Linked DNA regions of Homo sapiens: regions 2, 3 and 4 are each linked to region 1. Evidence: fine-mapped expression QTL. A gene starts in region 1. Each other region holds a variant in brackets. All regions are shown on one strand. Distances are from middle to middle.

What was found. PIP is the estimated chance that this variant, and not a neighbour inherited with it, causes the effect.
Region 2: its variant is the best candidate, but not a certain one, in a credible set for the expression of ZNF623 in anterior cingulate cortex (GTEx, PIP 0.67).
Region 3: its variant is the best candidate, but not a certain one, in a credible set for the expression of ZNF623 in prefrontal cortex (GTEx, PIP 0.61).
Region 4: its variant is the best candidate, but not a certain one, in a credible set for the expression of ZNF623 in putamen (GTEx, PIP 0.50).

Annotation. Positions count from the first base shown.
Region 1 is chr8:143,632,598-143,638,670 of GRCh38, forward strand. It overlaps ZNF623 (zinc finger protein 623), which reads left to right and starts at 3,422. Exons shown (of 2, transcript NM_001261843.2): 1 at 3,422-3,548. LOC105375798 (a long non-coding RNA gene) reads right to left here and starts at 1,307. Exons shown (of 3, transcript NR_188083.1): 1 at 853-1,307.
Region 2 is chr8:143,662,157-143,668,229 of GRCh38, forward strand. LOC105375799 (a long non-coding RNA gene) reads left to right here and starts at 962. Exons shown (of 4, transcript XR_928737.3): 1 at 962-2,212; 2 at 3,761-3,883; 3 at 5,689-5,761; 4 at 6,063-6,073. The variant G/A (reference allele first, on the strand shown) is at 3,592.
Region 3 is chr8:143,417,731-143,423,803 of GRCh38, forward strand. MAFA-AS1 (MAFA antisense RNA 1) reads left to right here. Exons shown (of 3, transcript NR_186795.1): 2 at 11-189; 3 at 1,245-1,420. Among named protein-coding and RNA genes, the nearest start is that of MAFA, 10 kb to the right of the region's middle. RefSeq lists an enhancer at 4,763-5,350. The variant G/GAGCAGGGGAGAACTC (reference allele first, on the strand shown) is at 2,576.
Region 4 is chr8:143,668,764-143,674,836 of GRCh38, forward strand. No RefSeq gene overlaps it. Among named protein-coding and RNA genes, the nearest start is that of ZNF707, 13 kb to the right of the region's middle. RefSeq lists enhancers at 283-783, 784-1,284. The variant A/G (reference allele first, on the strand shown) is at 3,425.

The DNA.
Region 1 (6,073 bases):
TGTCAGCTTCCTGCCCACTCCCCACCCTCCTGTGAACCCTCCCTCGGCCTTCAGAGCCAGTCCCTGCCTCTTCCTGGCTCGGTCCAGTCTCACCCCAGGTGCTCTGCTGTGTGGCTGCCATTGCCACCGTCCTCACCCTGTCCTCTGTGGTCACCACGCAGCCAACGTGTCTTTCCAGTGTCATCTGGCTTTTGTTACACTCCTGCTCAGAAGCCAGTGTGGGCTTCCTGTGTGGCTTGGACCGGGACCACACAATCTGCCCCACCCAGTAGTTATCTCGGAAAGACTAATTCCCAAGCTGTCTTCAGCCCTCCATTGTCATCAACTTGTCCCCAGACTCCATTCGCCCAAAGCAGGAAAGCTCTGCTCATGGCCCGAAGACACAGTGGCCTTCCTCAGGGACATTTCCCAGACAGTTTTGTGCTTGCTCCCGTACCAAGACCACCCATGGCCTGTTTTCCTAAACCCCACATCCCAGATAGCTTGAAACTATGTTTTGGGATCTTTTATCAGAATTTCTGCTTTGTCTTCAGAATGGCTCCGTCCCCTCAAATCCCTATAAATTCCCTTTCTGGCTGAATGCAGTTTCTTTGGACAGCTTTCCTTTCTTGAGCTCTGGTTATGGCAACAGCGCCAGCCTCATCTTGCATGGCAGCCTCCCCTCGGGCCTTTTGCCTTCCAGCCACACTCCTTGGTTTTGGCATTGTACTTGCTCTAGGTCAAGGGCTTTGGAGGCAGATGGCTACATCTGAGGCCTCCTCCAGCATGTCCTGGCTGATACCTTAGGTGAGCCATTTGGTTTCCCTATTTCTGTTTCCTCATCTATAAAATGGAGATAATATTAGAAGTCACCTGGCAAGGCTGCTGTGGCTCGAGGGGGCTCCTAGGTGGGGAGCAGACTTTCACGGAGTGATGTTGGACCTGTGGAGGGGAAGACACAAGAGGCAGGAGTGGGGCTGTGATGCCATCAAGCACAGCGGCTACTGGTCCCCCACAGGGAGCTCTGCCACAGAAGTGGTCCTCAGGGCTGTCCTCGGTTGGACCAGGATGTCCAGGACTTTGCAATGTGGGCTGTCCCAGGGAAGGGTGTGACCCTGGCGAGTTGCAGCTGATGGCTGAAGGCCGCTTACCACACCCTGAACAACTGGGACACCCAGCCTGTCACTGGAGGGGTCTCCCGGGGCCTCTCATCGCAGCATCCACCACAGTTGCTGAGGTCCACATGGGCCAGGCACTGGGCTAGACATGGAACGAGACGGGGGTCCCTGACCTTACGGAGCTTCCTTTCTACTGGCAGGGACAATCAGTACCAAACAAGTAAACTCAAAGTATTAAGTGCCAGCCGGGCATGGTGGCTCAGGCCTGTAATCCCAGCACTTTGGAAGGCCGAGGCGGGTGGATCACGAGGTCAGGAGATCGAGAACATCCTGGCTAACATGGTGAAACCCTGTCTCCACTAAAAAACAAAAAATTAGCCGGGCGTGGTGGCGGGTGCCTGTAGTCCCAGCTACTCGGGAGGCTGAGGCAGGAGAATGGCATAAACCCGGGAGGCAGAGCTTGCAGTGAGCCGAGATCGCGCCACTGCACTCCAGCCTGGGTGACAGAGAGAGACTCTGTCTCAAAAAAAAAAAAAAAAAAAAAGTATTAAGTGCCAAGCTGCAGCCATGTGTTAGCTGTTGGTGGGGTTGAAGTGGCAGGCGTCAGGTGTACAAGGCAGATTTTGATCTGTGACAACCTGCTCAGGCGGTGTTCTCAAGCTCTTTGGGCCTGCGGACAGGGAGGCTGAAAGGTCTGTAAGCCCTGTGGGGAAGAGGCCTCAAGCCCTTCTCGCCTTAAGAGCTGGGTCCCATGGTAAGCTGGCAATAGGGTTGCAGCAGCCAAGGTCTCCGGGCCTGGATGAGAGGTGGGGTCGCTCAATGTAGGGCTTTCACACACACCCCTGGAACACAGAAGCCTTTCCAAGAGCCGGGGAGCCCCTGGAGAATCACAGCAGGAGTTCCACATGGATTCTGCCCTGGAATTCCTGTAGAAGGTCCTTGGATGAGGGCACGCGCCTAGCGTGTCCCCCTTGGCCACAGCTCCTTCTCCCACGTTGCTTCTCTTCCTTTATTCACCCTGGTACCTGGCCTTGGTACCTGGGCTGTCCTCCTCATCAAAGGGACAATTCAAAACTCTGCAGTTGATTTTAAGAAAGTAGGTGAATTTATTGGCTGGGAAAGACTTCATGTAGTTTTGCACTTTAGGTTACTTCTAATTCTTTGTTTGCTTCTGTCAAAATTTAAAAAGGACCTATTCAAGTGGTCAACTGACAGGTCATTAAGTACACTTGGTGATAAACTGCTGTTATGTTTTTTGCATATAAGTCAGAAAGAGCTAAAGAAATTGAGCGTCGGCTGGGAACAGCGGTTCACGCCTGTAATCCCAGCACTTTGGGAGGCCAAGGCGGGTGGATCACGAGGTCAGGAGATCAAGACCATCCTGGCCAACAAGGTGAAACTCTGTCTCTACTAAAAATACAAAAATTAGCTGTGCGTGGTGGCGCATGCCTGTAATCCCAGCTACTCCAGAGGCCGAGGCAGGAGAATCGCTTGAATCAGGGAGCCATAGGTTGCAGTGAGCAGAGATCACGCCACTGCATTCCAGCACTCCAGCCTGGTGACAGAGCGAGAGTCCATCTCAAAAAATAAAAATAAAAATAAATTGAGCGTCATTGCTAAAACAAAATTCCTCCCAATCCTATCTAACAATTTAGGTAAACAAGTTTCCTCAGTGCTAGCAGAAAAATGGAAAAAGAAAACCCAAAATACGAATATAATGTTTTTTTGGTGGGGGGGGGGGGCAGGGGAATGTAATTATTTCGATTATTTCGGACTGTGACTCATTCTAGCAATGAGTAATGTCTACCAAGAATCAATGAGCCGGCGCGGTGGCGCGCGCCTCTGGTCCCAGCACTTTGGGAGGCCGAGATGGGAGGACCACCTGAGCCCGGGAGGTCGGGGCTGCAGTGAGCCGAGATCGCGCCACTGCACTGCAGCCTGGGCGACAGAGCGAGACCCTGTCTTAAAAAAACCAAAACCCGAAAACCAAAAAACTCCACAGCGCGCCGCTTCCCCACTTCTCTGGGGCGCAGAGAGGTGAAGTTTGGCCCTCACGGTATTTACTTCCCCTGGATCCTCGCCTCCTGAGAAGCTGGTCTTGGGCTGCGGTCGGACCTCGCCGCGAGCTCCAGACCCGAGTTTCCGAGCCCGCGCTTCCCGGCCCGCAACCCTCCCAACCGCGTAGCAACGCCGCTCCTGCCGGACACCCCTGGCCCCTCCGGGGGTCTTAGTCCCCGGGCCCGGAAGTCCGCACCACTGAGAGGGGAGCCGATCCCTGGCGCTCCTAGAACGGCGCAGGAAGTTTCCCAGGCGGGGCCTCTCGCGACTTCCGGTCGCGGCGGGCTGGCGGCGGTGCAGGCTTTGTCGGCTGATCTGTGGGGCCCGCGCCGGCGGGGTCCAGTCAGCGGCTGCAGGGTCGGGCTCGCGCCGTCCTCTCCCCGCCCGCGCCGGGTGAGTGGCGCGTTCCGGACGGGGGCGGGCAACGCCTTAGCCGCAGCCCCGGCTGGCTCCGGAGCCCGGCCGCCTTGCCAGGGCACAGTCCGCCGAGAGGGCCGGGCGGGGTCCGCAGGCCGCTGCCCGCCCCGCTAGGGCGTCCAGGAGCGGGGCCTTGGCTAGTCAGTCTCCCGGACGCAGCCACGGCCGCCCCCGCGAGGCTGCGGCGTCTCTCCAGCGAGCCCGCCTCGGGCCCGAGCCTGGGGTCTTGTCCCTGAGGAGCGCCGTGTGGGTACCCCTGGTTCCCTCTCCTTCCCCCCGCCCTGAGCCCAGGCCGGAGAGCCGCGGGCTTGAGTGTCCGTGTCGCAGTCTTCAGGTCCGCCAGGCCTGCGTGAGGTTGATGCCGCAGACATGTTTTACGGTGTGGCAGGACTGGGTGTGGGCGTTCCCGCGGCTGTGCCTGAACCCTGCCTCCGCTCCCTGGGGCCTCGAGGCCTCTCGGTGCTGGAGGAGATGCAGCGCCAGCATCTTCTGTGCTGTTGGGGATAGGGGTGGGGAGGGAAACATGATGAGCAGAATTAGAATTAAGTACAAGACTTGGACCTGGAGAATTCCCAGATGGGGAGAGGTGGTGTGGCTACGCTGTCCTGCTTTTTCTTGAAGGTACCCTTTTCCCTTCGCGTCTTTAAGAATCCCAGTGGCGTTCTCTGTGCTTCTGTCAAGGCTGTCTTGCTCCCTTCACACACAGGCTACGTCATGGTCCAGGGACTCTCAGGGTCTGGGCAGCGCCTGGATGCTGGCCTCAGACTCATAGGTAGTTGGTGTGAAGCAGCTCAGGGAGCTGCCGAGCTTGTCTTCGCTGCCTCAGGGTCATGGAAGATGACCCAGGAGAGGACACAGGGGGCTCGTCGTTGTCCTTGGGCAGAGCCCTGAGCAGCATGCCGGTAGCAGAAGCCAAATGGCCTGGGTGGGGCGGGGGCAGTTGACAGCTGGCTCCAGTTCTCTGACCTTACGCTTCTTACCTCCCTGAACTTCCGGGGCATCGTGGGGAGCACTAGGAACAGAAGCGCTCCCTGCCTAGCCTGTGGCGCCCAGTAGGCCCCTTGGTGTGGCGCGGGGCAAGGAGGTCCAGATGTTAGTGGAGCTCTAGTCCACGTCTCACTCGGTTGCCCTCTGGTTCTGCTTTTCCTGTTTCCTGAGGGTGAAGCTTGGTGTATCCTGTTAATTTCTTCAGGCTGTAAGCAACACACAGTGACTCTGGCTGGGAGCTTGAGGCTGGAATTTCCCCTTACCAGTGTGGGTGCAAGAGCTGGGGGCTTCTAATGCCAGATGGGACACCCCTAGACACCCCAGAGCTGCTGTGGCTGCTGATGATACACAACATCTGCTGTTGAGACAATTTCAAGTGATATTTATTTATTTATTTATTTATTTATTTTTGAGACGGAGTCTTGCTCTGTCGCCCAGGCTGGAGTGCAGTGGCATGATCTCGGCTCACTGCACCCCCTGCCTCCCGGATTCAAGTGATTCTTCTGCCTTAGCCTCCTGAGTTGCTGGGACTACAGGCACACGGCACCACGTCCGGCTAATTTTTGTATTTTTAGTAGAGACGAGGTTTCACCATATTGGTCAGGCTGGTCTTGAACTCCTGACCTTGTGATCTGCCCACCTCGGCTTCCCAAACTGCTGGGATTACAGGCGTGAGCCACCGCGCCTGGCCTCAGGTGATGTTTTATCCAGCAAATTCTGTGTTACAACAGGAGATGGGTCCATGCTAGTCAGTTTGTTGTGTGGAGCCACAAGTCAGGTGGCTTCCTTTTTTTTGCATTTCATGTCAGTTTCTTTAAATGAAAATGTATTGATTTAATTTTACTTAAATTCATACAAGAAAAAGTTAAGCAAAAACTGAAGATAGCTATTTCCTTTTTGAGATAACTGTTTCTTCAAAGCAAGATATTTGCAATTTTAAAAACTTTCTCTAGAGGCGGGCAGATCATGAGGTCAAGAGTTCGAGACCAGCCTGACCAACATGGTGAAACCCCATCTCTACTAAAAGTACAAAAGTTAGCCAGGTGTGGTGGCACGCCCCTGTAATCCCAGCTAGTCAGGAGGCTGAGGCAGGAGAATCACTTGAACCTGGGAGGTGGAGGTTGCAGTGAGTGGAGACCATGCCATTGCACTCCAGCCTGGGCGACAGAGTGAGATTCCGTCTTAAAAAAAAAAAAAAAACTTTCTCAAAAGTTAAAAAAATTATGAAAATTATTAAGAGGCACACATATGGTTTTAAGATATGTTCTTGTAAACAGAAACACCCTGTTTCTGGCCGGCCGTGGTGGCTCACACTTGTAATCCAATCCCAGCACTTTGGGAGGCCGAGGTGGGTGGATCACCTGAGGTCAGGAGTTTGAGACCAGCCTGGGTAACAAAGTGAAACCCCATCTGTACTAAAAATGCAAAAAAATTAGCCGGGCGTGGTGGCAGGCGCCCATAATCCCAGCTACTTGGGAGGCTGAGGCAGGAGAATCGCTTGAACCCACGAGACA
Region 2 (6,073 bases), 30 kb after region 1:
CTGTGGCCCTGTTTGCTGGTGCCTTCCTGCTCCTTCTTCACTTGCCTTCGGGGCACTGTGGCCCTGTTTGCTGGTGCCTTCCTGCCCCTTCGCTCGCCTTCGGGGCACTGTGGCCCTGTTTGCTGGTGCCTTCCTGCCTCTTCGCTTGCCTTCGGGGCACTGTGGCCCTGTTTGCTGGTGCCTTCCTGCTCCTTCTTCACTTGCCTTCGGGGCACTGTGGCCCTGTTTGCTGGTGCCTTCCTGCCCCTTCGCTCGCCTTCGGGGCACTGTGGCCCTGTTTGCTGGTGCCTTCCTGCCCCTTCGCTCGCCTTCGGGGCACTGTGGCCCTGTTTGCTGGTGCCTTCCTGCCCCTTCGCTCGCTGTGCTGCAATGTGGGCATGTTCTGTGGGTTTGTCTTCAAGTCCATTGACCTTTTCTTTTGCCTTTGAGGTCTTTTTTGTTTGTTTATTTTGTTTTGTTTTTATTTCTAAAAGGTCACCTTAGGTTCAGAAGCCTTTGTGGTCTCATGTTCATTCCACCATTGAACTTTTCATTTCAGATGTAGGTTTTTCAGCTGTAGAAGTTCTACTGGATTCTTCTTTATACCTTTCATTCCTTTCCTCATTACCACGTTTTCCTTTAAACCTGTGAAATTACTCATTTGGCTTTTTAAAAGTTCTTATCTGCTAATTCCACCATCTTTATCATGTCTGGATGTTCTTCAGGGTTTTGTTTTGTTTTGTTTGAGATGGAGTCTCACTCTGTCACCCAGGCTGGAGTGCAGTGGCGCGATCTCAGCTCACTGCAACCTCTGCCTCTCAGGTTCAAGCGATTCTCCTGCCTCAGCCTCCCGAGTAGCTGGGACTACAAATGCACGCCACCACGCCCGGCTAATTTTTGTATTTTTAGTAGAGATGGGGTTTTGTCATGTTGACCAGGCTGGCCTCAAATTCCTGACCTCAAGTGATCTGCACACCCAGCCTCCCGAAGTGCTGGGATGACAGGCATGAGCCACCACACCCGGCCTGGATGTTCTCCAGCTGATGGATGTTTCTCTTGGCTATGGGTGACATTTTCACCTCTGTGTGTTTAGTAATTTTTTTGATAGATATTGTGAATGTTACATTGTTGAGGGTCTGAAATTTGTCTTCCTTTCAAAATTATTGAATTTTTTTGCAGGCAGCTTAATGACTGTAGATCAGCTTAGTCCTTTGAGGCTTGTTTCTGAGCTTGGCTGAGGCTGGTCTACAGCGGCCTTTACTCCAGGTTAGCCGTGCTCCTGGTAGGGCTGGACCCTTCGCAGTTCTCACTGAGTGCCGCCACTGGGCAGCAAGGCCCACCACTCTGGCTCATCACACTTTGAGCACCTCCCAGGCCTGCAAGCTATTTGGGGATTGTCTGCTGTCAGCTCCCCGTGGCTTGTGGCCTGGCCCCATGGTGTGTGCAGCTTAACGTTCATCCAAACACTCATGGCAGCACTGGGGACTTCCTCTTCATGGGTCCCAGTTTCTTTCTCGTACTGGACCCCATAAATGCGAGCCTTCTGTACCTCCCCAGAGTCCAACCTCTGCCTCCTCAACTTAGTGAGTTGATACCATGCCTGTGTTTCCCCTTCATATGCTGTATTCTAGAAAATGCCACCAGGCAGAGAGCTGGCATCATGGGAGGTGCCCCCCCCATCTCCATCCTCCTGGGCAGGTCACAGCACTGCACCCTCCAACATCTAACAGCAGCTGTTGCATGGATTTTGTCCAGCTTTCTAGTTTAGGGCAGGAGGGCAAGTCCAATACTTGTTAATCATGGCTGGAAGGGGAGGTCACTGTACCATTTTTTATGTAACCGGTAAATATAAATTGGTAAGGAGTTGACAATCCTATTAATTTGGAGTCAGCTACCTGGTGGCTATCAGTCTCATTCTCTCTCCTGCCCACCTTTCCTGCCTGTGTTCCTGGCGTTCTTTTTGAAAGCAGGCTGCAAGCAGTCACATCGTCACCCTGGGGCATTTCCCTGTGCTTTGTGCTGCCTGGAAGAGCTCATAGCCAAGGAAGGGTGAAGACGGCGCGCTGCGGTGTGCGGCTTCTAGGCTGTGGAGCTCTAGTGTTGCCTTTTGGGTTCAGGGACCCACTGGGCCACTGTGAGGTGGGCTGGAGCTGCATTTCACCGACTGCCTTGCTGCAGGAGCCCTGCTCTGACTGGAGGGCCACAGAGCACACCGGGCCCCCCCGTAAGCCAGGTACGAGACTACCCGTCTCCTGCAGCAGGGCTCGGGGACCTCCCCATGGAGCCACAGGCATGGGCTTGGGGAGAGGCCCAGTGGAGAATAGAGGGTGGCACGGGGACCTGGGCCATCCTTGTGCCTTCTGGACCTGCCCAAGCCCAATCTTGGACTCCACTTCCATCTCCCAGTAAACTCCTGACGGCCCCTTGGATGTGCGACTGGTAGCTCCGACAGCACCCAGTCACGATGGGCAGCGCCAGTCTCATAAACACCGTGGCCTCCACGGTCAGGGCCCGAACACTTGCCCGCACCACCTACCAGCTGGTGGAGTCCCCTGAACATGACGGGGCCCTGCGCCGGTGGCCTTGGGCCTGGGCTGCACATCCTGCACTGAGGCTCGTCATGGGCGCCACTCGTGTCTTTGCCACACATGTGAAGCCTGTGGGAACTTCACGGCCACATGACCCACGTGGCAGGACTGCCTGTCACCCAGCCTGGGCCTGCCTCAGCCCCTTCCCTTGCTCCAGACCCCACTCAGAGCCGACGGCTTTCCCTCTCCCCCGCCAAGGGCAGAACATATTGCCTTCAAGCCCAAAGAGGCATCGGGCCTGCCCCAGCACCCTACAGGCCACCGCACCCTGAGAACATTGCTCATGGGGCAGGTCTCTGAAGTGTACGGAGTCTGCCTCCTGCCCTCCACAGCGCCCGTGTTTTTCTGAGGCCATCAGCGCACCTGCTATCTCTGCATGAGTCCAGTGCCCATTAAGGCATCCACTGAATGGGCCAACCTTTGCTCGTGGACCATCCAGTGGGTCAGGCCTTTGGGCCATGTTGGGACGAGGCACCCCACTCGGTTCTGGAGCGACCGTACCTGTGTGCCGCTGTTGGCCCCGCGTGGGCAGGAACTGCTCCGATTCCCCTTCCAAACAGGTTTCGGAAATGATGTGTTTATCAGACCAGTAGCCAAAAACCACATGCACGTGGCCACATCAGTCTCTTCTGGAAAGACCATGTGGATGGCCACAAGCGTGCCTCAGCTACTACTGTTTAAGCCTGTGGTAGTCCACTGCTGTCCACCACGGTCATGCAGCTTCCGCAGGGGTTGGGTTTCCAGATTGTAAGGCGGGTGGGGACAGGCAGATGGGGACAAGGGGGACAAGAACAAGAGGGACAGGGACAAGGGAGTGTATGGGGACAAGGGGAATGGGGATGAGGGGGATGGAACAAGGCGGGTGGGGACAAGAGGGACAGGGATAAGGGGGATGGGGACAAGGAGGGCAGGGTAAAGGGGGATGTGAATTAAGGGGACAGGAACAAGGTGGATAAGGGGACGGGGACAAGAAGGATGAGGACAAGGGGGATGGGGATGAGAGGGATGGGGATAAGGTGGGCGG[G/A]GATGAGGGGGACAGAAACAAGGGGGATGGGGATGAGGTGGGTGGGGACAAGGGACAGGAAGAAGGTGGGTGGGGACGAGGGGCACAGGGACTAGGGGCACTGGGACGAGGAGCCTGGGGACGAGGGGGATGGGAGCAAGGCGAGTGCGGATCTTTTACGTCTTCACAGGTGGCCTTAACGCCTGCCATTCTCCACAGAGGGTAGAGTTGCAGGAGCTTCCACTTTGATTTTCCCACTACAAGACTCACTCTGTTGATCAAGGAACCAGTTGAGGTTTTGCCCAGTTGCCAGGTGTGTCCAAAGTGATTTTGTTCCTTTCACAGGACATTCTGCCTCCCTGACAGCGCGGGGGATGCTTCCATGGCCTCCACAAGTTATAAAATACTCCAACACCAGTAGTATGTTAGTTACACCAGGGTGCCATTAAAAATACTGCAGAGTAGGTTACTTAACAACAGAAATTAATTATTCTCTCACAGTTCCGGAAGCCAGAAGAGACTAAAGTGTCCCAGGTTGGGTTTTGCCGGAGGCTCCTCTCCTTGGCTTGCCGATGGCCGCCTTCTTGCTGTGTCCTTGTGTGGCCTCCCTCCCTCCTCCGTGTGCACACACATCCCATGCTGTATCCCTGCGTGGCCTCCCTCCCTCCGTGTGCACACACATCCCATCCTGTGTCCCTGCGTGCCCCTCCCTCCTCTGTGTGCACACACATCCCATGCTGTGTCCATGCGTGGCCTCCCTCTCTCCGTGTGCACACACATCCCATCCTGTGTCCCTGCGTGCCCCTCCCTCCTCTGTGTGCACACACATCCCATCCTGTGTCCCTGCGTGCCCCTCCCTCCTCCGTGTGCACACACATCCCATGCTGTATCCCTGCGTGCCCCTCCCTCCTCTGTGTGCACACACATCCCATCCTGTGTCCCCGCGTGGCCTCCCTCCTCTGTGTGCACACACATCCCATGCTGTGTCCATGCGTGGCCTCCCTCCCTCCGTGTGCACACACATCCCATCCTGTGTCCCTGCGTGCCCCTCCCTCCTCTGTGTGCACACACATCCCATGCTGTGTCCATGCGTGGCCTCCCTCCCTCCGTGTGCACACACATCCCATCCTGTGTCCCCGTGAGGCCTTCCTTCCCTCCATGTGCACACATATCCCATCCTGTGTCCCTACGTGGCCCTCCCTCCTCCGTGTGCATGTACATCCCACGCTGTGTCCATGCGTGGCCCTCCCTCCTTCCTCCATGTGCACATACATCCCATGCTGTGTCCCCTCGAGGCCCTACCTCCCTCCATGTGCACACACATCCCATGCTGTGTCCCCGCAAGGCCCTCCCTCCCTCTGTGCAAACACACATCCCATGTCTCTCTGTGCATCCAAATTTCCTCCTCTTAGAAGGACCCTAGTCAGATCAGGTTAGGGCCCACCCAAAGGCCCCATTTTAACTTTACTACCTCTTTAGAGGCCCTATCTCCAAATCCAATCACATTCTCAGGTACCGGGCATTAGGTTCAGCATTTCAATTTGGGGGGAAACAAATCAACCCATAACAGGTGGATTTCCCAAAGCCTGCATTATTCAATTGTAATCAAACACACATTATTATGTATTTTCCCTGTAAAATAAGAGACAAGATCCAGGCTTGGTGGCTCAGGTCTATAATCCTGGCACTTTGGAAGGCTGAGGCAGGCAGATGCCCAGGAGTTTGACACCAGCCTGGCCAACATGGCAAAATCTCGTGTCCACAAAAAATACAAAAATTAGCCAGACGTGGCGGCATGCACCTGTTGTCTCAGCTACTCAAGCAGCTGAGGTGGGAGGATTTCTTGAGCCCAGGAGGATGAGGTTGCAGTGAGCCAAGATCGCACCACTGCTCTCCAGCCTGAATGACAGAGTGAGACCCTGTCAAAAAAAAAAAAAAGGCAAGGTTTTCTTCCAAGTGGGAAGAAAGATGGTGGATAGGATTTTTACGGAGTGTTGAAAGAGCTACTTGGAGAATCAGAAAGAAGATTAGTTGTTGGGAGGCACAGAGTGAGTACTGAGAAAACCAAGGGCCCAACTGAGGCTTGAAACTGCCAATTCTCCATTTACTGTCTTTCAGCTTCAAATACATACTTCATCGCCTGCTTGGTGAAAATGGAGCTGGGCCCTAAATTGTTTCTCCTTTAAAGCAGGTATGACGTTAAGCTTTGTAAGTAGAGGGCACTGGAGGGACCCTGCAGGAGGAAAGTGCTTCTCTTCCTGTTCTGCACTTTCTTCTGTTTTCTTCTTGTTCCTGCCATGTGGCTGCCAGCACACTCAGTGTTGCTCACCCCCAGCCAACTTCACTTGCAATGCCATGGGTGGATCCCCGTGAGTCTTGCAGATGCTCCACTGGTCAGCATCCAGCCTCAGCCTGCCCCAGAGAGGTGTTTCCTGCTTGCCAGTCCTGGCCAGGCTCCCTACCTGCCACCTTCAACCCCTCTACACCTGCAGGAGTGATTGCC
Region 3 (6,073 bases), 210 kb before region 1:
TCGGTGCCAGGCGCTGCTGCAGCCTCTAGGAAATCAACCGTGGAAACACACGGACCCTGCCCTCCCGGCGCCAGTGTTCTGGTGGTCAGGAGGTGAAGAAAACCAGCAAGAACCAGCACAGGAATCCGACGGTGGCAGCGCCGAGAGAAACAAGCTTGGAGGGGAAGGAGAGCTACAGAGGCTGCATGGGTGAGGCCAGCTTCTTGAAAATGGAGGTGTGAGATTTGAGGAGGGCTCTGGAGAGAAGAGGGAAGAGGGCCCAGGGGAGAGATGAGCAAAGGTTCGGTGGTACAAACTGAGCTCCCTCACTCCACGTTTGGAGTCATTCCACAGCTTCCTAAACCACCCACCCAGGCAACCCCATCCCCCTACCCACCCATCCACCCACCAACTCACCCCCAACCCCCCACCCACCCATCCTCCCACCCACCTGCCAACCCCCTACCCACCCACCCACTCATCCTCCCACCCTCCAACCCCCTACCCACACACTCACCCATCCTCCCACCCACCCTTCAGCCCCCTACCCCCCACCCACCCACTCATCCTCCCACACACCCTCCAACCCCCTACCCAGCCACCCACCCACTCATCCTCCCACCCTCCAACCCCCACCCACCCACCCACTCATCCACTGACTCTCTAACCCCCTACCCACCCATCCACTCACTCATCCACTCTTCCCCATACCCCCCCACCCACCCACTCATCTTCCCACTCACCCCCATACCCCCTACTCACCCACCCACTCACCAACTTACCCGCCCATCCATTCATTCACCCTCCTCCCACTCACCCACTCCCACCCATCCCCCATTCCCCCATGCCTCATCCTCCCATCCATCCATCTACCCACTCACCTACCCAACCACTCACCCATCTACCCACTCACCCACGCACCCTTCCATCCATCCACCCACCCATCATCCACCCACTCATCTGCCCATCTCCCCATTCCCCCACCATCCCATCCATCCATCCACCCATCCACCCATCCATCCACCCAACTGACCATCCACGTATCCACTCACCCACCTGTTCACCCATCTACACACCATTTATTCACCCACCATCAACCATCCATATATCCTTCCATCCAGCCACTATCCTCCCGTTCCTACCCATCCTGCTGTCTTCCTCATCTTTCTTGTCACACGTCCAGCTGTCTGTCCGTTCATCCACCCATCACCTCATATGCTCCTTTTGTTTTTACCTCTTTCACCTTTCTTCATCTTCAAATGCAGATGTGATGGTTGGAGTGGAAGCTGACATTGTGGGCCAGGAGACCCTGGGAGTACAGGCCAAGATGAAAAGAGCCTCAATCCAGAGCGTTCTGTGAAGCAGTCACCACGGCCACCCTGGGCCATCAGCTTCTGGACTTTTACAACATAGAAATTAAATTTCCATTGAATTTGTTGGAGTCATTGTTCCTTCAGCTCTCTGTTACCTGCACTTACATCTCTCTGTGAGTCGCGGAGTCTTGCAGTTAAGGTATTAATATTATTGCGTCTCAAGGTGCCTCAGGTCAGAGGTTCCAAAGGTGAATGAGGGCACAGCTCTCCGTCTGAGACTCACGGTGGAGAAGCCTCCTCACCTTGCTCCTTCTCCCTGTCACCAAGAAAGGAGGTCTGGGGGAAGGAAGGGGTCCGTGTGGCCCTCCCGCCCCCACACTGTCCCTCTTGGATTCTGCTAGCCTGTGGGTGTGGGCAGCAGCTCAGCCTGGCCCTGGAATTTTCCATAAAGGTCTTTCCAGGTAAGAATGATTAGACAACATATTTTGTATTCATTATTATATAGTGCGTTTTAAATGTTATTTACGTGTATGTGGGTGGGTAAGATTTAATGGCTAAAGAGTGCTAGACAGCGGGAGCCAGGAGTGTGTCTGGGCTTGTCACATGAATTCCTGCAGAAATAATTCTCTTTTGGAGAATGCTGAACGTCATACCTTCCTGATCGTAACCTCAACGTGGCCCTAAGCGCCCTGTCCAGGGCCCCAGAGTTTCTGAACTCAGCTTAAGTCAGCTCCCCAAATTCAGCAGAAAGTGGGAGGAGTTGGGGCTGTTCTGTCCCTAGTACACAGGTCTGGGCAGGGCTGGGTTTTACCTTCTGGGAAGGGCTGTGGAAGGGAGGGTGAGGGGACAGACCCAGCGGATGAGGGGTTTGAAAAGGAGGAGTGGGGACTGCAGTGATGGGCAGCGCACTGCGGCTGAGTAGGGGGAGGAAAGCCTTCTGGGAGCTGAGCTGGGCTGAGCTGGGGACCCCCCATGGATGGCAGCTCTGGGTGCCCCTCCCATGCCTGCTCCTTCCCTGCTCCCCTCCTGCCAGGAGCCAAGCTCTGTTCCCCCAGGCCCCTCTGCAAGCCCCACAGACGTGGCCAAGACATCTCCGGTCTTGGATTGGGGGCACCCCTGTAAATCCCGCCCCGGTGCACCTGGAGAGGCACATCCCACTCCACGCCCTCCCCTCGGAACAGAGCCCCCTCTTCCAAGAAGCCTTCTCAGATTGACGAAGGGCTTGCTGAACGGGTCCCTCTCTTTACTGCTCATGAGGCCCCTGTGTGGATGGCCGATGGGAG[G/GAGCAGGGGAGAACTC]AGCGTCTTCTTACAGATGAGGTGATTGAGCCCTGAGAGACGGCCCCCGCTCTACCTCCAGCTGGGGAAGGGCAGAGGTCAGGCCGACTCCAGTCCAGCCCCTCTGCCACCATGGCGGGGGTGGCCTGGTGACTGGGCCGGGGGGCTGGGGAGGTGCCCACCTGACCTAACCAAGGCCAGTGACGAGGTCCAAGGCCCCGTCTCCACCCACGCCCCACCGCCTGACCCGCCTCCAAGGCGATGGCAGCCCCCACCCTGCTCCAGAGAAGACGCGTGGACAAGGTGAGGAGGAGACCAGAGCCTTCCTCCCAGACTCGCAGAGCCACCCCCGCGCGAGCCCTCCGCACCACCCGCACCTCCTGAGCTCTCAGGTATGGTGGTGCCAGGGCGGTGCACCAAGCACCCTCAGATGTGCTGCGAGGCTGCCCTTCGGAGGCACCCGTGCCGGCCTCCTGCTCTTCCATAGGGCAGCGGGCCCAGGCAGGGCACAAGGCGGACAGAGTGTCCCGTCCCCCATGCGATACGCCCAGGACCCAGAGGGCAGAGACGGTGGGTGAGGAACCATCTCTGCAGGGAACCGCCAGCAGGAACAGAAGGGTGAGGGGCCGGGCCAGCGACCTCCCTGGACTGTGGCAGCTCCCGCCTGTGCCCCCACGATCCTCTCTACACAGAAGCAGGGGCCCCTGCTGCCCCCACAGTGGCCCCAGGATCTGTCCCCAGTTCCTCGCCGCCCTCCCTGCCCCCATTTCACGGCTGCTCCCCTGCAGCCGCTCCAGCCCCGACTTTATACACACAGGCCCAGCCACCTACGGGCAGGCGAGGCCTCCTGGAGGCCCGGCGGGCTCTTCCCCCTCCCTCCCCGCCCTTTTCCTCTCCCGATTTCCTGGCCACCCTCTGGCTTAGTCTGCAATTCATCTTCCCGTCTCTCTTCCCATACCTGAGCCTCGTGCCGCCCGGGATTGCGGCGCCCGCGCCACCACGCTGGGGTAATGGTCCCAGCACCGCTGCCCTGCGTCCTGCCGCGCCCCAGCCCGCGCGTCTCACACACCGCGACTGCGTGTCTACAGGTGCCGCCTCTTGACGCCTCTGCTGCACCGCCAGTGCCCCGCTCGGCAAAGCACAGCCCCTCCCCAGCACTGCAGCAAATGGGCAGGAGACCCCCGCCCGGCCGGGGGAGCAGGGGCAACGGCAGGGCCCCAGTAGAGAGGGTGGAGCTGGAGCCGAGGCCGGGCCAGGCGCCTGCGGGGCCTAACGCTTCTGAGACAGGCGAGCCGTGCTCCGTGCTCCGTGCTCCGGGACGAAGGGGGCTGTGGGGTCGGCAGAGGGCTTCCCGTGAGGAGGAGCACACCAGGAGTGCTGAGGCCGGGGGTGGGAGGCGGGCAGATCCCTCAGGAGGGTGGGCTGGAGGGCCGGGACAGCCATGGGCGGCTTCTGTGCGGAGGGGCAGCCTTGGGGTTGAAGAGAGGAGACCAGAGGCTGCAGGGAGAAGCTGGGGATGGGTGGGGTGGGCCCAGCCAGGGCCCCTGTGTTTGAAACTCCCTTGTCGCAGAGGAGCCGTGGGCTACGCCCCTCCCCCAGGGCATCAGCTCCCCTGGGGCATCTGTACCAAGAGCTGGGCAGAGGCGGCGGCTGGAGAGGGGCCACCCAGGGCATGTGGCTTCCCGGAGGACATGGCTTGTCCCTGAGACCCACCCCTCTGGGGGAGGTGACCAGACACCTGGGTCCCAGCCAGGAGACGGGAGCAAGGGTGCTGCAGGAGAAGGGACTCCGGGACCCTCCTTCCTAGAGAAGCCAGAGTCCCCTAGAGTCCCGCGGGGCCCCGCCAGCAGCCTGGGACTCTTCTGTGCCCAGCACCCTGCCTGCACGCTCACTGCTGCTCCCAGGCTGCTCCGGGGAGGCGATCAAGGCCCATGGGGCTGGCGCCTGGCATGTTCCAGATACCTCCCTGTGTCAGCCTCTGAGGACTGGGTGGGAGGGAGGCAAAGGGGCCATCCCCTGCGAGCTAGACCACGCTGAGTGGGTGCCGGGAGGTGCAGTGGAGTCGGGGAGGCCCCAGGGCGGAGCCCGCCACATGGGAGGGAGGGGCTGGGCCACAGACGCAAGTCAGGGGCCAAGGTGGCTCTGTCTGGGAAGGCGGTGGCCTGAATGTGGAGAGGAATTATCCTCCAGGCTGGAACTGATCCCAGCTGCCCTCAGGACACCTAACTCGGGTGCCAGGGGTCAAGGGCACTGGAGTCCCAGAGGCCGGCATGGAAGAGGTGGCAAGGCTCAGGGGAATGCCAGGGTTGAAAGGGGCAGCAAGGGCTGCGGCTGAGGGGCTTCAGGCCTGGTGGGCTGCTGTTGGGGGGCACCCCACCTTGCTGCTCTCCACAGCCAGGTTGGGGTGCCTGGGGGGGCGGGCCGGACCTGAAGGCCACAGGCCTCCTCCTGCGCCTACCCCTCCTGCAACCCCCACAGCCTCCCCCGCCGACCCCTTCATGCCCCCCCGCCCCCCTGCCCGGCGCTCCTCCCCGGCCGCGGGCTAATTGGCTGTGACAGCTGGAGCCCTGGGCAGCTGAGCGGTGTCACTGCAAATTAGGCAGGCGCTGAGCCCGCCAGCCGCAAATTCCTCTGTCACTGCTCCCCATGCGGACTGCCGACTGTGTGTGGGGGTCGAGGGTGTGGGCTCCAAGCCACTCCCACCTTCCTGCCACCTCCTGATTCGGGGTACACTCCCTTCCCCCATCCCCCACCTCCTCCGCCTCCCAGGTGAGGAAGCGGTTTCCCCTCCTCCTGGGCCAGCCTCCCGCCTCAGACCCTCTCCCAGGCCCTGCCTCCTCCCCCACAACTTCCGAGTCCTCTGAGCACCGGTCCCACTTCCCGGGCCCTGGCTGGCCCTGCCCCGCCAGTCTCCCCTGCCACCCCAGACTCCCTAATTCAGGGTCCCTCGGCCGCCACCCTCTCCCTGGGAGCCCGGGGATCCAAATGCCTCCTCTCAGGGACCCTGGAGGGTACTCCTGTCTGAGCTGCCTGCCCCCACCTCGAGACCCCCTAGGAGCCAGGCTCAGCCAAGACCCCGCAGGCCTCCACCCTCCCCGGCTCAGCCCACAGCCTCGGGCTCTCCCTGCTGACCCACATGCTGCACCCCCAAAGTCCACCCCGTGCTGCCCCTCCCCGTGCACCCTCAGGGATTACACCATCAAGGTCGAACACAGAACCTGCATCCACCTCACGCCCCGACTTTCCACGCGCCTCCCAGCTCCTATCAGGAAAGGTCTCCCCCAGGTCCGTCCCATCCACGCTCTCCGGGACCATCTGGGCCCTCGCCCTGGTCTCAGCCTTTGCTGCCCCCGACAACCTGCCAGGACCCTCAGCCTTAGGGAGGTGGGCCCCTGTGAGGGTGGGGCCAGGCTGGGCTTGAATCTGGGACAGCGGGGGCACTCAGGCCCTGCCCCGCACCCTTGCTGGGCCTCCCCAGCCCTCGGCTGGACTCCGTGGCCAGGAACTGCTGAGCAGGCA
Region 4 (6,073 bases), 36 kb after region 1:
GAGACCCCGTCTCTACTAAAAAAAATACAAAAAATTAGCCGGGCAAGATGGCGGGCACCTGTAGTCCCAGTTACTCGGGAGGCTGAGGCAGGAGAATGGCGTGAACCCAGGAGGCGGAGCTTGCAGTGACCTGAGATTGCACCACTGCACTCCAGCCTGGGCAACAGAGCAAGACTCTGTCTGAAAAAAAAAAAAAAGAAAAGAAAGAAAAAAAAAAAAAGAAAATGAGCACTCAAATACTAAAAACACACACAAAAAATTAGCCAGGGCTGGTGGTAGACACCTGTAATCCCAGCTACTCAGGAGGCTGAGGCAGGAGAATCGCTTGAACCTGGGAGGCAGAGGTTGCAGTGGGCCAAGACTGTGTTACTGCACTCCAGCCTGGGCAACAAGAACAAAACTCCATCTCAAAATACAAACAAAAAAAAACTTCCACTGGCTTTTTTTTGAGTGCTCACAAATTTGCCTTCTCAGCAAGGCAAATTTACTTCTGCAGAAGAGTGCCGCTCTCTCTTCTGGCCACTGGGAGAGCACACCGAACAAAGCAGGGCAGGGGTGTTTATCCCTAAAGCAGTCACGCCCTGCTACTGTGTCCAGTCCCCATTGGCTGGAGTCGCACCACACCATCTAAGCCGATCCCCATTGGCTACTTCAAATGGATCAGGGGCGGCTACAGTGGCCAAATAAGGAACAGATGTGGGTTTTACAGGTTGGGCTGCAGATTGGGAACAGATGTGGGTTTTACAGGTTGGGCTGCAGATTGGGAACAGATGTGGGTTTTACAGGTTGGGCTGCAGATTGGGAACAGATGTGGGTTTTACAGATTGGGCTGCAGATTGGGAACAGATGTGGGTTACAGATTGGGTTATAGATTGGGAGTGGCTGGAAGGTTGTTTGCTGTAAAGTGGAACCTTTGAAGAGGAACTCACTGTATCTAACAAATGTAAATCCAATTATGTCGAGTCTACTTCAAAACTTCCTGCCAGGTGTGGTGGCTCACACCTGTAATCCCAGGAAGTGGGCACGTTTTCCATGGCCAGAGCAGGAGGAGGAGAGGAGTGGGGAGGTGCCACATACTTTTTTTTTTTTAATTCTCCAATTTAAAACTTTTAGTTAAAAAGTAAACTTTAATGTTGAAAATGCAAACTTGGGGCAGGTAGAAAGATTACACACAAGGCTATCACTTCACATTTGGAGGGTTGCACAGCAGCCGGGCAAAGGCGCTCCTCACTTCCTAGACAGTCGGGGGACCCGGGCAGAGACGCTCCTCACTTCCCAGACAGTGGGGGTACCCGGGCAGAGGTGCCCCTCACTTCCCAGACGATGCCGAGGCTGGGGTGCCACATACTTTTAACAGACCAGATCTCAAGAGAACTCACTATCACCAGAAGGGCACCAAGTGGGAAATCCGCCCACATGATCCAATCACCTCCCACCAGACCCCACCTCCAGCATTGAGGATGACAGTTGACATGGGATTTGGGTGGGGACACAGACCCAAACCATATCACTCCTGAAGAGCTAGGACTACAGGAATGCTATACCTGGCTAATTGTTTTTCTTTTTTTCGTTTGTTTGTGTTTTTTTTTTTTTAGATGGAGTCTCACTCTGTTGCCAAGGCTGGAGTGCAGTGGTGTGATCTCAGCTGACTGCAACCTCCCAGGCTGGAATGCAGTGGTACAATCTTTGCTTACTGCAACCTCTGCCTCCCGTGTTCAAGAGATTCTCCTGTCTCAGTTTCCCGAGTAGCTGGGACTACAGGCGCCTGCCACCACGCCCAGCTAATTTTTTATTTTTAGTAGAGACAGGGTTTCACCATATTGGCCAGGCTGGTCTTGAACTCCTGTCCTCAGGTGATCCACCTGCCTCAGCCTCCCAAAGCGCTGGGATTACAGGAGTGAGCCACTGCGCCTGGCCACACCTGGCTAATTTTAAAAAAATTTCTTGTAGAAATGAAGTCTCACTATGTTGACCAGGCAAGTGTCAAACTAACTCCTGGCTTCAAATGATCCTCCTGCCTCAGTCTCCTAAAGCACTAGTATTAAAGCTGTGAGCCATCATGGTTAGCCTGTTTTTATATCTGGGAACTGTTGCTGTACAAAAATCAAATATGGGGTTGGAGTGGTTCACATCTATAATCCCAGCACTTCAGAAGGCTGAGGTGGGATGATTGCTTGAGTCTAGGAGTTTGATACCAGCCTGGACAACAGGAAGTCTAGGCTGCAGTGAGCTGTGTCGGGCTGCTGCACCCCAGCCTGGGCAACAGAGCAAGCCCTTGCCTCAAAAAAAGAAATCAAATATGAAGACTAAGAGTTTTAGGATTTGGTGTTAAGAGGTTTTGTTTTGCGTTGTTTTGAATTTTTGTGGGCACATAGTAGGCGTACGTATTTATGGGGTACATGTTTTTGTTTCTTTTTTTTTTTTTTTTGAGACAGAGTCTCACTCTGTCACCCAGGCCGGAGTGCAGTGGCGTGATTTCAGTCCACTGCAAGCTCCGCCTCTCAGGTTCAAGTGATTCTCCTGCCTCAGCCCCCGAGTAGCTGGGACTACAGACGAGCACCGCCACACTTGGCTAATTTTTGCATTTTTAGTACAGACGGGGTTTCATCATGTTGGCCAGGCTGGTCTCGAACTCCGGGCCTCAAGTGATCCACCTGCCTCAGCCTCCCATGGGGTATACGTTTTGATACAGGCGTGCAAAGTGTAATAGTCACATCATGGATAGTGGGGTATCCATCCCCTCAAGCATTTATCCTTTGCGTTACAAACAATCCGATTATACTCTGTTACTTTAAAATGTACAATTAAATTATTATTGAATATAGTCACCCTGTTGTGCTATCAAATACTAGGTCTTATTCTTTCTAATTTTTTTGTACCCATTAGTTAAGGGTTTTTTTTTTTTTGAGACAGAGTTTCACTCTTGTCACTCAGGCTGGAGTGCAGTGGTGAGATCTCGGCTCACTGCAACCTCTGCCTCCTGGGTTGAAGCGATTCTCCTGCCTCAGCCTCCTGAGTAGCTGTGATTACAGGTGCACGCCACCATGCCCGACGAATTTTTGTATTTTTAGTAGAGACAGGATTTCACCATGTTGGCCAGGGTGGTCTTGAACTCCTGACCTCAGGTGATCCACCCACCTCGGCCTCCTGAACTGCTGGGATTATGAGACTTACGGTTTACCAAAGGGGTGCGATGGGCCTTCTGTGTGGTGTCCGCATCCTCTCCTAGCTGGTTTCGGGAGAGTGCCGGCCCTCTGGGGCCTCTCTCCCTGGCTCGCCCTTTAGAAGGGGTTCACATAGTTAGAACCTTAGCAGTAAAGGTAACCTGTGCCTTGCGCAGGGCGGGGGACCTGGTGGGGACCCCAGAGGCAATGGTGTCAGCCCCGGTTATGGACTGGCGTCACTTGCGGCAGCCAGGTCCCAC[A/G]TGCACCCACCCTAATTTAATTAGACCAGGCAGCTAGGCAGGAACACGTTTATTTATTTTTAATTAAGCTTTTTGTGATAATTTTAGATTTGCATGCAGCTGTAAGGTGTTTTACAGAGAGATGCTGGGCACCCTTTACCTCCCTCAGTGGTAGCACCTGGAACCCTGCAGTGCACACAGCTGGGGTATTGATGTTCACAGAGTCAGGATATGGTCCTCACCCTTCCACAGCCACACCCACTCCCTCCCTCCAACCCTCCTTCAGGGCTGGCAACCATTCATCTGTTCTGTCCATTTCTGTAATTCTTTTTTCTTTTCTTGTCCTTTCCTTTTCTTTTCTTTTTTTCTCCTTCCTTCCTCCCTTCCTTCCTTCCTTCCCTCCCCTCTCTCTTTCTCTCTTTCTTTCTTTTTCTTTTCTTTCTTTTTTTTTGACAGTCTTGTTCTGTTGCCCAGGCTGGAGTGCAGTGGCGCGATCTTAGCTCACTGCAACCTCCACCTTTCAGGTTCAAGAGATTTTCCCAAGCCTCCCAAGTAGCTGGGATTACAGGCATGCACCATGCCTGGCTAATTTTTGTATTCTTAGTAGAGACGAGGTTTCACCATGTTGGCCAGGCTGGTCTGGAACTCCTGACCTCAGGTGATCCGCCTACCTCGCTTAGCCTCCCAAAGTGCTGGGATTACAGGCATGAGCCACAGTGCCTGGCCCATTTCTGTAATTCCATCTTTTCAAGAATGTCCTGTGAATGGAATCATATACAGTATATATGGAATTGTTCTATTGAGGCCCAGTGTCACCAGTACCCATGGATATACAATCTCCTGGTGGGGCCAGGGTGCACCATGGCTCATGCCTGTAATCCCAGCACTTGGGGAGGCCAAGGTTGGAGGATTGCTTGAGGTCAGGAATTTCAGATCAGCCTGGGCACCATATTGAGACCTGTCTCTACAAAAAATTTTGAAAAGTTAGCCAGGTGTGGTGATGCACTCCTGCAGGCCCAGCTACGTGGTGGGCTCAGGCGGGAGGATGGCTTCAGCCCACGAGGTAGAGGTTACAGTGGCTGTTGCTGGGAAAGTGTGATACATGCAAGAGAATGAAGTTGGACCCTCGTCAGTACCACATACAAAAATTAACTAGAAATGGATCATGCTGGGCACCGTGGCTTGCACCGCTTGTACCTGTAATCCCAGCACTTTGGGAGGCTGAGGAGAGTGGATCACCTGAGGTCGGGAGTTCGAGACCAGCCTGGCCAACATGGTGAAACCCTGTCTCTACTAAAAATACAAAAAAAAATTAGCCAGGTGTGGTGGTGCACACCTGAAATCCCAGCTACTTGGGAGACCGAGGTGGGAGAATCCCTTAAACCCGGGAGGCAGAGGTTGCAGTGAGCCGAGATCACGCCACTGCACTCCAGCCTGGGCAACAGAGCAAGACTGTCTCAAAAAAATAAGTAAATAAAGTAAAATAAAAAGTAAAAATGGATCAAAGATCTGGATGCAAGACCTGAAACAGTAAACTCTTGTTAGAAACTGGGAGCAGAAGCTTTTGACACACACTGGGTTTGGCAATGATTCCTTGGACACCAAAGGTACAGGCAACAACAACAAACAGCCAAATGGCTTCGTGAAAATTAAAGCCTTTTGTTCATCAAAGGACACTCCTAAAAGAGTGAAAAGCTGCCCCTTCCCCACAGAACGGGAGAATATCTGCAAATCACGTGTCCGATGAGGGACTCATATCCAAAATATCGAAGGAACTCCTTGTGGAGGCCAAAGCCGCTCCAGCCTGGATGGTGACTATTGTGTGGGCTTTCGACTAACCCGTCCAGGGAAGGCCTCCGACGTTTCCAGGTGATCTGTTGTTCCTTGTGTAAGGGCAGGCACTTGCTATAAACCCTGCCGCAGGGTCAGACGGCCCTGATGCCGCCCATTGTCCTGCACTTCCCTCCCAACCCTCCCCGTGGTACACAAGCCCTGGGCGGGGGCAATGGTGGGATCCAGTATCTCCTCTTGCCGCTGCCAAGACAGACATGGCTTCTTTTTCTAAGTCCCTGTTAAGTGTTTCTTTCTAAGAAACTGGGTTTGTTAGCCTTTTTCTTTGACCTCTCAGCTTCCTCGGACTTTGGAGACAGGTTTACATAGACCTACTTACCATGGAACACTCCAGAAAACGACTCCCCAAAAACAACCTGATTCAAAAATAGGCAAAGGACTAATTAGACCTCTCTCCCAAGAATGGCCCAATAGGCTGGGCGTGGTAGCTCACACCTCTAATCCTAGCACTTTGGGAGGCCAAGGTGGGCGGATCACCTGAGGTTGGGAGTTCGAGACCAGCCTGACCAACATGGATAAACCCTTGTCTCTACTAAAAATACGAAATTAGCGGGGCGTGGTGGTGGGTGCCTGTAATCCCAGCTACTCGGGAGGCTGAGGCAGGAGAATTGCTTGAACCCAGGAGGTGGAAGTTGTAGTGAGCTGAGATCACGCCACTGTACTCCAGCCTGGGCGACAAAGTGAGACTCCGTCTCAAAAAAAAAAAAAAAAAAGTAAAGAAAAGAATGGCCCAATAAGCACATGAGAGGATGTTCACACCACTCATTCTTAGAGAACTGCAAATCAAAGCCACAATGAGATACCACCTCACACCCATTA